Linked DNA regions of Homo sapiens. The protein of the gene in region 1 interacts with the protein of each later gene in a pairwise test. Each region holds a gene or a part of one and is shown on either strand. Other genes may lie near its edges.

Region 1 (3,750 bases):
GGGTGTACCATTCTCCAGAAACTTCGGCATGTTTGTATTTATCTCTCAGGAAGCTCTCAGAACCCAGCCCTTTTATGCCTTTTATGGAGACGACTTAAGCATGTAGGCATGCTTAATTAAACCATTGGCCTTTGGTGATCAACGTAATCTTTAGCCCTCTCTTCCCCAGGTTAGTGGGTGGGGCTGAAAGTTCCAAGGATCTAATCCTGCCTTGGTCTTTCTGGTGATAAGCCCCCTTCTGAAGCTGCCCAGGGCCTATCTGCGTCAATCAGCTCATTAGCATACAAAATGACAGCACTTTGGAGATTCCAGGGATTCTAGGAGTAGTAAGACGGGAAACAGGATGAAGACCAAGTAGAGATTTCAACAAAATGCAAAGCTGTTGGAGGGGAGACAAGTTCAGATGTGTCAGAAATTTCCCTCTGGTGACTATGTGGGACTAGAGGACTAGAGGGGCTGGAACTGGAAGCAGGTGCCTTTCAGTGTCAGACATGTCGTGAGGGTTTTTTTTTTTTTTTTTTTTGAGATGGAGTTTTGCTCTTGTTGCCAGGGCTGGAGTGCAATGGTGCGATCTCGGCTCACTGCAACCTCTGCCTCCCAGATTCAAGCGATTCTCCTGCCTCAGCCTCCCAAGTAGCTGGGATTACAGGCGCCTGCCACCTTGCCCAGCTACTTTTTGTATTTTTAGTAGAGACGGGGTTTCACTATGTTGGCCAGGCTGGTCTTAAACTCCCAACCTCAGGTGATCCATTCGCCTCGGCCTCCCAAAGTGCTGGGATTACAGGTGTGAGCCACCACTCCCAGCCAAGTTGTGAGGGCTTTAAGACTGTGGCAGACGGTATGGATTAAACAGATTTAGGAAGAAAAATCTACAGGACTTGTTTGTTGAAGTCTGGGCTTAGGTGAGGGAGAGACAGACTCAGGGATAACTGCACAATGGAACTTCCTGTGGTAACCAAAATGTAATGACTGTTGTCCAGTACACACTGGCCGCTTGTGGCCGCCGAACACTGAAAATATGACTAATGTGACGCAGCTGTTTAATTTTATTTAGCTTTAATTTTAATTAAATCTAGGAAGGATTCCCTATCACACATCTAGGGTGTAGTAGGAAGCACACTGTTCCAGGCTTTGTTCTTTTATTCCATTTAATGCTTCCAGCAACCTTAGGAGGTATAAGATATTCTTTCCTTTGTAGAAAAAGTAAATAGGCTCAGGAATGAGTCCTTGCCCAGGTAGTAAGGAGTTCAGCCAGTACTGATTTGTTGGCCAGGCTGTTGCTGCTGTATCCTACCTCCTTCCCCCAAGGAGCCTGCAGCATCTCCTTGTCAGGAAAATGCCGTCCTCTTGAGTTGGTAGCATTGTTCCTCCATGTGGCCCTCCTTATCTGTTCCCACCCCGCCCCCCAAGCTAACATGGACAGTTGAATGATAAGCACACTGTGCAGGGGCTGGTCTTTTTCCTGGAGCTGCTCTGCCTGCCGCCTCTTCTATCTGCCTAATGGCAACTCTTTCAACATTTCCGGGGAAGGAGAAACTGTAGAAAACTAAACTGTGCCTTATTTGTAATGATTTGGTGGTAAAGAGGTAGAAATGAGTGCCTTAAAGTGTTGGGGTCACAGTGGACCAGACAATGCCCAGGCCGGTGGGAAGGGTATGGGACATGAGCCAGGAGTTACTTTATAGCTTGTTCCCAGCCCCGTGGGGGAAGTTGACAAAGTCACTGTCTCTTAGTCTCAATTTTCACTTCTGAAAAATTAGGGCATTTGGTTTCATGTAACCTTTAAGATCCTGCCCGCTCTGAAATTCTGTCATTTTACATTTTGTTGGAGGTTTACCTTCTAGAACATGTCTTACGTATCCTCTTGAGGTGGGGTAAAGGCAGGTGGGTCCACAAGCCCCTGGCCTCTGTCTTGGCGTGTTTTAACATTGGCTTGTTAAGTAACACGTTTATTTGAGTTAATGTGTCACATCTGGTGGACAAACTGTATGTAAAATGCTGAATGCTTTAGTGGATGGCAGAGTTCCCAGTAAAATATCAGGTATATTTGTTTGCCATTTCAAGCTGCACTGATGTTAGGAAGAAAGGCGCAAGAATATATAATACACAACTTGGGGCTGGCCTGTTAGAAGGGTTCACTATCGGCCTTGGCCAGGCTGTGGGTCATAGGAGTCGCCACCTCATCGGGTTATTGAGGTTAACTGAGATAGTGCGTGTAAAACGCTTAGCATTTTCCCTTGAATCTCTATTAAAGGCTGAAAAAGTGGCAGTAATTAATGTTGCTCTTTGAATTAATTTGTGACCAAATTAAACTAAATTTGAATTAGATTCTTTTTCTAGTGGTGGGTTTTGCTGTTTTCCTGGTTTGGGTGTATACGTCCAAGCAGCTCTGTTTGGTGGGACTGGTTTCAGGAATCCAATTAACTTATTTCCATCATTACAAAATAAGGCATTTTTCCCATTATAATTAAGTTCAACAGAATAAAAAGTAATTGGTTAAGTGGAGTGCGTTCAAATTAAGGGTTCATATTTTCTGTAAATTGAAGAAAATAACTCATCCTGAAGATCCCTTATTATTAGTAATGGCTGAGATTAAGTTTTACCAGAACCATGATTACACTGAAATGTAGTTGTGGTGACTGCCTTGGAAGAGTGGTGCTAGCGTGAGGCGGTTGAGAGTAACAGACACTGTACACTTTATTAAGTGCCTTTCAGATACGCGTCTCCCTTGAATGTCTGCAGCAGCCCCGTCGGTGATGTGCATGTTGGGATCCCCATTTGGGAGATGGAGAAACAGGTTTAGAGAGGTCTACCTGGCTGGGGGAAACAGGTTTAGAGAGGTCTACCTGGCTGGGGGAAATAGGTTTAGAGAGGTCTACCTGGCTGGGGGAAACAGGTTTAGAGAGGTCTACCTGGCTGGGGGAAACAGGTTTAGAGAGGTCTACCTGGCTGGGGAAAGGGTGGTGTTTCCTTGTCTCCAGATCCTGTGTTTTCTGCACCTTAGTCCTAATGCTGCTTCAGGTGGGGGTGTTGTGGTTTCAAGGCTAAGCCTCTCCTTTGCAGTTCCAGAAGCTTAATTTTTTGCCCATTTGTGCCTTGTTTCCAGTTCAGGTGACCCTAGTCATGCTAATCAAACTCACCAGAAACCTATCAGCTGGATCGCAGATGGTTCATTTGTGGTTAGAAATATGACTGTCACATGTGCTTGAAGACTGTTGCTCAGTGATTTGATTTGATTTTTGAGATGGAGTCTTGCTCTGTCACTCAGTGTGGAGTGCAGTGGCACGATCTCGGCTCACTGCAACCTCTGCCTCCCGGGTTCAAGCGATTCTCCTGTCTTAGCCTCCAGAGTAGCTGGGATTACAGGTGCGCACCACCATACCTGGCTTATTTTTGTATTTTTATTAGAGACACGGTTTCACCATGTTGGCCAGGCTGGTCTCGACCTCCTTACTTTAGGTGATCCGGCCGCCTCGGCCTCCCAAAGTGCTGGGATTACAGGTGTGAGCCTCCACATCCAGCCTTGCTCAGTGATTTCTGCCGCCACACTCTTCTCCTCTCCCAAGCCTACGTGGGAACCTGATGGCTGTGAAAAAGGAAGTTTGTGGGAATCACATCTAGAATGAAGGGAGAGGAGGATATTAATGAGCAGGGTCTGGCCGTTGAGCTTCCATAGCATGCAGTCATCTGTCTTGCTGAGGGTCATGCTGGGAAGGGCTTGCTTGAAGGCTCCCGGTCTTCCAGAGCTGC
Region 2 (3,750 bases), on another chromosome or scaffold:
TCATACACAAAAAACTGAATTTGTTATAACAGTGTCCATGGTTAGGTTTCCATGCTGACAGATGACTATTTTATTTGTGTTAAAGAAGTAGTATCTACGGTTATAATGATAGAAGCCAAGAATACTTGAATGTTGAATATATTTGAAACTTAGCACTTATAAGTTTATGTAAAGAATGGAGAAACTGTCAGAACAAAAGAAAGCCCAAACGATATTGAGGACAATTCGTGGGCTTTCATTTAGACCCTAAATGTTGGGAAAGACAGCAACATCTTTTTCAAATGGAACTGATCAAATCGCTGCTTGAATTGCTTTCACTTAGATTTTTCTAATATTTTTGAAACGATAACTAAACATCAGGTAGCTATTAAACCCTTATTTATTTCAAATGTGAGACCATACATTCACAACCTTTATTTTACAGCAGAGGATTCTAGAGAGTATTTCCCCCAAAACTTTCCCTGTGCATTGTTGGAAGTTGACTCTGCAGCATTAATCTTGTGGATCTGAAACCACTTTCCTGCACATGACAGAATATTTTGGTATTATTTCAAAACTCAGCCCCTGCAGGTCCACAAAAGACCCATTTTATTGCTAAGACGGAGTGTTTGCACTGTTTTAAAAATATGACTACTTTTATATAGGGGCATTGTATGACAATTTCCAGAGATATGAATTAACTAAAGTATTTTATCCAAAAAGGCAAACAGCAACAATAAAAACATTTCAATAGCCAAAATTAATTCTAACATAAGCTTTTTTTGGGACAAGTTGGCAATTGTAGTAGTTGGGGTAAAGGATTGATCTATCATTATAAATTATATGTTAGATTTATACTTTTTAATATTAAAATGTTTATTTAGCACATTTTATGTATGAAGCACAGTTTAGGGACCATTTAAAACTGGAACCACATCACAGTGATATTACACGTGAAGTTGACAAAGGTATACAGTTTTCAGGTTGTGCTTATGTAACAGCTAAAGAATGATCACTGTTAGTATCTAGAGCAAATAGTAATGGAATAATAGGGGTCTCCAGAGGTTAACTAGTCCACCCATCTGTTTCTTAGCTGAACCAATTACCAAAGTCATCCCACATGAGTGAGTGTTTTTGTATCATTAAGGTGCTCTCATAGAGACAATAATTTCTCAGCCTTTCCCAGTTGTTACCCTAATGCACGCTATCAGTACTTCCTTTGACCTAAAGCCTGTATTTAATGGAACAGTTAAGCAGCTTTGCACATAAGCCACTCTTTTAAAAAATCAAATCTGTAAGAATATAGTGTATATAGTAAGCAGCTAACTATTAAGAGGGAAAAATGTTCTCTAATAGATGTATGTATTTCTAAGACTTTCCTTCTCTTGAAGTTTAGGGTAGACATATGTCAGCTCTGGTTGGTGACACTGCAAACAGTTTTTACTATTGTAATTGCTTTTCATTAGTAGCTATTTGTTTTTGCTTTAAGGTTGAGAATTTCCTATGAGTTGCTTTATTTTTTTATGATTTTTAAAAATAAATTACTGACTTAAAGTCTATAAAAGCAACTCTTATTGTTTGTTTGTTTTTTCCTCAGTTACTTGGACATAGGAGAAATCAAGAAAAGACCAATGGAAGTTGTTAATACAGAGGTAATGCAAATATTATTTTGAAAATTCAAATAAATAACGGTGCCATTTGTTTCTTATGGTGTGTCTTAGAGATTTGGACGGCATTCTACTTTGATGAGTTCTCTAATGTAAAGAAATGGAACATTATATGTTTTAAGGCAAAGATAATTCTTTCTTTGAATCATTGTCAGAAATGAAAAGACTGAGTAGATGTTCTAAGATGTGCAGGATATGTCAAGATTAGACAAAACATATTTTTCTCTTTTCTAGCTACATGTTCTCTGATTGAAATCCATGGGAAGGTTCCCTGTCAAGTGAGAAGATTCTGAGCGTTGTTAAATAAATCTTTACCAAAGCTACATCCTCATCCTAATGTGCCTCTGATAACTCAGTGTTTGATGTAGCCAGGGTCACCCTAACTGCCCCTGAGGCTTTCAAAGGAGATGAGTAGATGTCACGTTGGACACTTTGTGATGTCAGGAAAACACCTGTGTTTTAGCTTCTATCGAAGTACGAGTTAAGCATAGTTCGTGAAAGCTTATGTGAAGGTTGGAAAAGGAGCTTGTGAAATATTCACAATACCGCATTCCACGTAGCTTCTGAAACCCTGGTGGAGTTTTAGGTATTCTGTAGGATGTATTCTTTAGTTTGTGAATGAAAAAATAGATTAAAAACAAAGTTGGGGCCACAGCCTGAGACAGGGAAAATTGTAGTTAGATCCAGAATAGGCCTCTGTTCACCAGCCCAGACAGCCACTCTTCCCATTCAGACCCCAAATAAACAAGTGCTTCCAATGGGTAAGTGCTGCCAATGAAGAAATGGCCAACAGGAAAAGTAGTTTTTCTCACTTGTAGTCCAGAGCCCCAGAGGGACTCTCCTCAACACTCACCATTTCCTCTCACATCATGTTTGTGCCTAATAGGACCAAATAGGCCCCTCTAGAAAAAATATTGCGTAAGAAAAAAATTCTAATTGTACAGTATTTGAAGAATATGAGGTTAAATTCATTATTCAAATAATCTGTAGAAAGAGGTACCCTTCCTAGACATCATTTAACATAATTAATATTTTGGCTTGTATTTTCAGTGCATCAAATTGATTAGTCATGAAAGTGATAGGCTTTGTAGCTTAAAGTAGACAAAGGTATACAATTTTCAGGTTGTGCTTATGATATAGCTAAAGAATGACCACCAGTTGATATCTGTCTCAAGTAGAGTAGTAATAAAGGGCAGTGTTGTGAATTTGTTCTGGATGTGATTCTGATGAAAGGATACACACCTGTTTAAAGTATACTACCTTGCATGAAATTGGTGAAGAAACCTGGACTTCCGCAATAGAATTTGAGATGTGTGAATTCCCAAAAAATGTGAGCACAGTATATTTACTCTGGATTCCAGTGTCTTTGCTGAAGACATTATCCCTAGTAAAAGACAACAGGTGTGCAATAGATTTATCGAATATACTTTTTTCTTAAAAATTTTTTTTTGAGACAGAGTCTCCTTCTGTCACCCAGGCTGGAGTGCGGTGGCTCGATCTCTGCTCACTGCAACCTCCACCTCCTGGGTTCAAGCGATTCTCCTGCCTCAGCCTCCTGAGTAGCTGGGATTACAGGCACGTGCCACCACACCTGGCTAATTTTTTTGTTTTTCGTAGAGACGGGGTTTCAGCATGTTGGTCAGGCTGGTCTTGAACTCCTGACCTCATGATCCGCCCGCCTTGGCCTCCCAAAGTGCTGGGATTACTGGCATGAGCCACCAAGCCCGGCCTTAAAATAGTATTTTTAATAACAGAAGCATTCACAGAAACTCCAGTTCATTTAATTTGCTTATTGTTCTTCCACTCTGGGGACAGTAACCATTGTTTCTCTTTATTTTGCACTTACACATGAGCCAACGTACAAGATCCTTATTTATGGATGCACACCTTACGTGTGAAAAACCTACCCCTTGTCTCCAAATGAAAGACTGCATCTCTTTCATCCTGCTTCCTACTGGTGACTCCCTCCCACTTACTCCTTTCCTCTTGCTGCCCTGCTGTGGCCTTTTATTTCTTCTCAGTCCTTACCCATAAACCCTTCTAAAGGAGATGGAAAGAGAGAAGTAGAAGAAATTGTGAAATGCAAAGGAGATGGGAAAAGGTG
Region 3 (3,750 bases), on another chromosome or scaffold:
CCCATCTCCCAAAGTGTGGCTCTCAACATGGCCTTTCTCACACGGCCTTTCTGTGGCACAGGTGTGTAAGGTGAGCTGCACCGGTAACCACTGAGACTGGATTAGCATTTTCCAATACCCTTGCCTTAGCTGACAAAACTTCAAAGCCCTGGGGTCAAGAACAAGTGCAGAGCTGAGATCCACGTGCCGATGTGTACACGGATCTCAGACGTGATCCAGTTACTTAGACAACAGTGGAGTGTGTGGGTTCCCGTTCAGCTATGGTGAGTGGGGTTGTAGAAGTTGGGAGTGAATTCTCACTTGTCTGCTTCCCCTGGAGTACAGTTCGGTGTCCTCTCATGCTACCTTTTGCCTTTTTTATCCTTTGGTTTTGGTCCGTACAGAAAATTGGAAACCACTGAGAAGTACAAAATGAGAGCAAGAACAAAAACCACCCTGAATTTCACCACCCAGAGCCAGAGTATGGGATGAGCACTGGGGCCAGGCCCTCCTCCTCCTCTCTGCAGATGGATTACAGGATTTGCATGTGTTACACTGTAGTGGTGGCATGTGCTAGCCTATAGCCTGTTCCCCCCCGCCAGGGCAGTGTTGACAACACTGTGTCATTCCCTGTAGCTGAGTTGTTACATTGTTTGCACTGTTCCACTGCTCAAATGCTAGTGTTTCCTTGTACCTCTTCCTGCCTTTAAACTTCGGGAAGTTTGAGCCAGAGCAACTGGGACAGCAGAGGTGTGGACAGTGTGGGTTTACTGGCACCAATGTGTGACAACAGACACGGCGAAGCTTCCCAAGCCTTGGTGTCCAGCGGTTTCCTTGGGGTTGATCACATGCTGTGGGGGTGGCTGACTTTTAGTTCCCAGCCCCTCCAGAGGTGGAGTGGACACCTTGTGGCCCCAGGCCCCTGCCCTAAATCACGTACTTAGGCTGCCTGTGGGGCCCAAGGCCCCTACTCTTGGAGATGAGGCCAAAGGCAAGGTTAATTCTTCACTATGCAGAGGGTGTACCCTGTGCCAAGGCTTTTGATGTCTGGTACCAGACACCATTTGAGGAGTAGCCACTGCCTGCAGAGGGTAGGGGAGGCTGGGTCTGGCCGTGTGTGCCGTAGGCCTGGCTGGTGGTGGGGGTGAGCGGGCAGGGAGCTCACTCGTGTCTTGAAGACGCTGACTCTTTCAAGTCTGGACAGTGCTGCGGCTGTGAAGTTCTGAGGTTGCCAGAAAGATGGAGACGTGGGTGGAATGTCACCTTACTTCAATGTGAGCTTGCTGTCCAGAGGTAGTGTCTCACTTTGAACTTGGGAGAGAGGGGATGTCCAGTCTGCCTGCCCGCTGTGTCCTGGTTCCTAACAGTGGAGCTTCTTCACCCTGATGGAAGCGCGGAGGCCCAGGGCTCCTCCAGGGGTTCTGACTCCTCCAGAGGGACGGGGCCTCTGCTCCTGGCATCGTGCATGGCCCAGAGGAGGGAGGAATCTAGAATTCTCTCCACTCAATGTGGTTGCCTGTGGCAGTTGGCTTCTTGGAGGAGGTCATTTGAGGTTGAGAGCTCCATGAGTTGGGACTCGTGGTGGATGCAGATACCGCTGCAGGCTGGGCGGGTGGGGGGCCTCTTCATCCTTGGTTGTAGGTGCTTTGCCAAGAGGGAGATGTCTTGCTGTGTTGACTCGTCTTTTGAAGGTTGTGTGCTGGTGTGATTCTCTTTATGGAAGCACCTGGTAAAACTCTGGGAGGCTGGCATGGTGGCTCATGCCTGTAATCCCAGCATTTTGAGGGGCCAAGGTGAGAGGATCCCTTGAGGCCAGCAGTTCGAGGCCAGTCTGGCCTCAACATAGTGAGATCTCGTATCTACAAAGAAAAAAAAAAGCACAAGTCCAAGAGTGGGCAGTGCATCTAGTTTAAGTACCCCTAATCTGAAATTCACAATCCTCCAAAATCCGAAATTTTGTGAGCATAGGGAAGATGCTCAAAGGAAATGCTCACTGGAATGTTTCGGATTTTGGATTTTTAGGTTAGGGATGCTGAGCCAGTAAGTATTTGCAAATATTCCAAAACCTGAACAAATCTGAAGTGCAAAGCACTTTTCGTCCCGAGCATTTGGGATGAGGGATGGGCAGCCTGCAGCATGTGAGCAAAGAGCAGTGTTTGGCTCTTGGCAGTGCCCCTTTACCTGTGCGTTCACTTTTTTTTTTTTTTTTTTTTGGTGGAGCGGAGTGTCTCTTTGTCACCCAGGCTGGAGTGCAGTGGCACGGTCTTGGCTCACTGCAACCTCCACCTCCTGGGTTCAAGCGATTCTCCTGCCTCAGCCTCCTGAGTAGCTGGGATTATAGGAATGAGCCACCACGCCTGACTAATTTTTATATTTTTAGTAGAGATGGGGTTTTGCCATGTTGGCCAGGCTGGTCTTGAACTCCTGACCTCAGGTGATCTGCCCACCTTGGCTTCCCAAAGCTCTAGGATTAGAGGCGTGAGCCACTGCGCCCGGCCTGCTCTTGGTTTTGAAAGTGATGTCAGCAGTATAACTTCGTGTAGGAAATGTTTGCCTTAGGTGGTGTGGAAGATGGACCATGTGATTTGATGCAGTCCAGGCAGCAGATTACAAAATCCCGCCTCGATGGTGTGGCTTGGGGTTTCTCCTGACCTTGGTGTAGGGCACGCCTTGCTGCCTCCCCTTTCTCTAGTTGAACTGCAGGACAGTGGGTACAGTTGTGAAGTTACTGCCACTTTCAACATCTCTTGGCAAATTCCTCAATAATCTTTTTAAAATTCCTTTAGAATTGTGGGTTTGTGAACTTTTCAGCATCGGGTGGAGTGAAATTGTTACCCTTTCTCTCAGTGAGAAATTGGAGGGGATTATTGTGGCAGGAGGAGTAGGTTTGGGGGATGCGAGTGGGGCAGGGAGAGGGGCATAGGGTGAGTTTTATCAGGAGCTGCTTTCAAGGAGAGGACTAGGGTGAGTGGAACCATGCTGAGCTGGCAGGCAGCACCCTGTGGCTGGTCCGCAAACATGGGGGCTGCTCCCCACACCTGGAGGCTTTTTATGCCTCTTAGATCTCAGACTCTTAGATCTGATGCACCCGCTCCCCAGAAAACCGCCCACGCTTAGCACATCCACCTCCATTCAGTTTTAGAGGTTCCATGTACTCCTAGCCTCTCTGCATTTCACTGAGGCCCTGCACCGCTGCAGGATGCCCCTGAGCTGGGCGAGACCCTAGGCTCTGTCCCATGGTTGCTTTGTTACTGTGCTGCTGCTGGGAAGCTTCCTGTTGAAGGGTTTTGAGGCGTAGCCAAGATGGAAGTTGTGGGCAGCAACGATTCTTTCCCAGGTAGCAGTTTAGAACCGCAAGGGACGGAGGGCCTGCCACCTGGGCAGTCAGGAGACTCTTGGCCCGAGGGACTGAGGCCAGGTTTTCCAAGCCGAAGATGAGGACACAGGGTGACGAGTGATACATTGATTTTGACATGTGTGTTTATGAGGGAGAAATCCTCCCAGTGGAGTCTGTGTTTCCGAAAACAACTGTGAGAGCCACGGCAGCACGTGGGAAAGGCAGAGCCAGAGAACCATCTGATTCGCTCTGCCCAGGGGGTGGAGAGAGAGCACCTGGCTGCTGGAGTGTGGGTGTGGATGGTGCCTGGTGTCCTCAGTGCCCTGTTGGGGCTGCCCAGGCGGCTCTCTGGAGGGGGGCTTGGGGCAGTGCCAACTCAGTCTGGGAGTTCAGGGCTCAGCCACTCGACTCCTGGCAGAGAACGGAGGGTGTGG

Evidence for each region.
Region 2: the proteins of FAM118A (region 1) and DCDC2 interact in binary tests that used the Homo sapiens proteins (3 or more experiments, as listed by UniProt).
Region 3: the proteins of FAM118A (region 1) and WDR4 interact in binary tests that used the Homo sapiens proteins (3 or more experiments, as listed by UniProt).

The regions. Positions count from the first base shown.
Region 1 is NC_000022.11:45,312,817-45,316,566, forward strand, and holds part of FAM118A (protein FAM118A), read left to right. Parts: intron 1-3,750.
Region 2 is NC_000006.12:24,351,450-24,355,199, reverse strand, and holds part of DCDC2 (doublecortin domain-containing protein 2), read left to right. Parts: intron 1-1,576; coding exon 1,577-1,631; intron 1,632-3,750. UniProt on the Homo sapiens protein: Protein that plays a role in the inhibition of canonical Wnt signaling pathway. May be involved in neuronal migration during development of the cerebral neocortex. Involved in the control of ciliogenesis and ciliary length.
Region 3 is NC_000021.9:42,865,836-42,869,585, reverse strand, and holds part of WDR4 (tRNA (guanine-N(7)-)-methyltransferase non-catalytic subunit WDR4), read left to right. Parts: intron 1-3,750. UniProt on the Homo sapiens protein: Non-catalytic component of the METTL1-WDR4 methyltransferase complex required for the formation of N(7)-methylguanine in a subset of RNA species, such as tRNAs, mRNAs and microRNAs (miRNAs).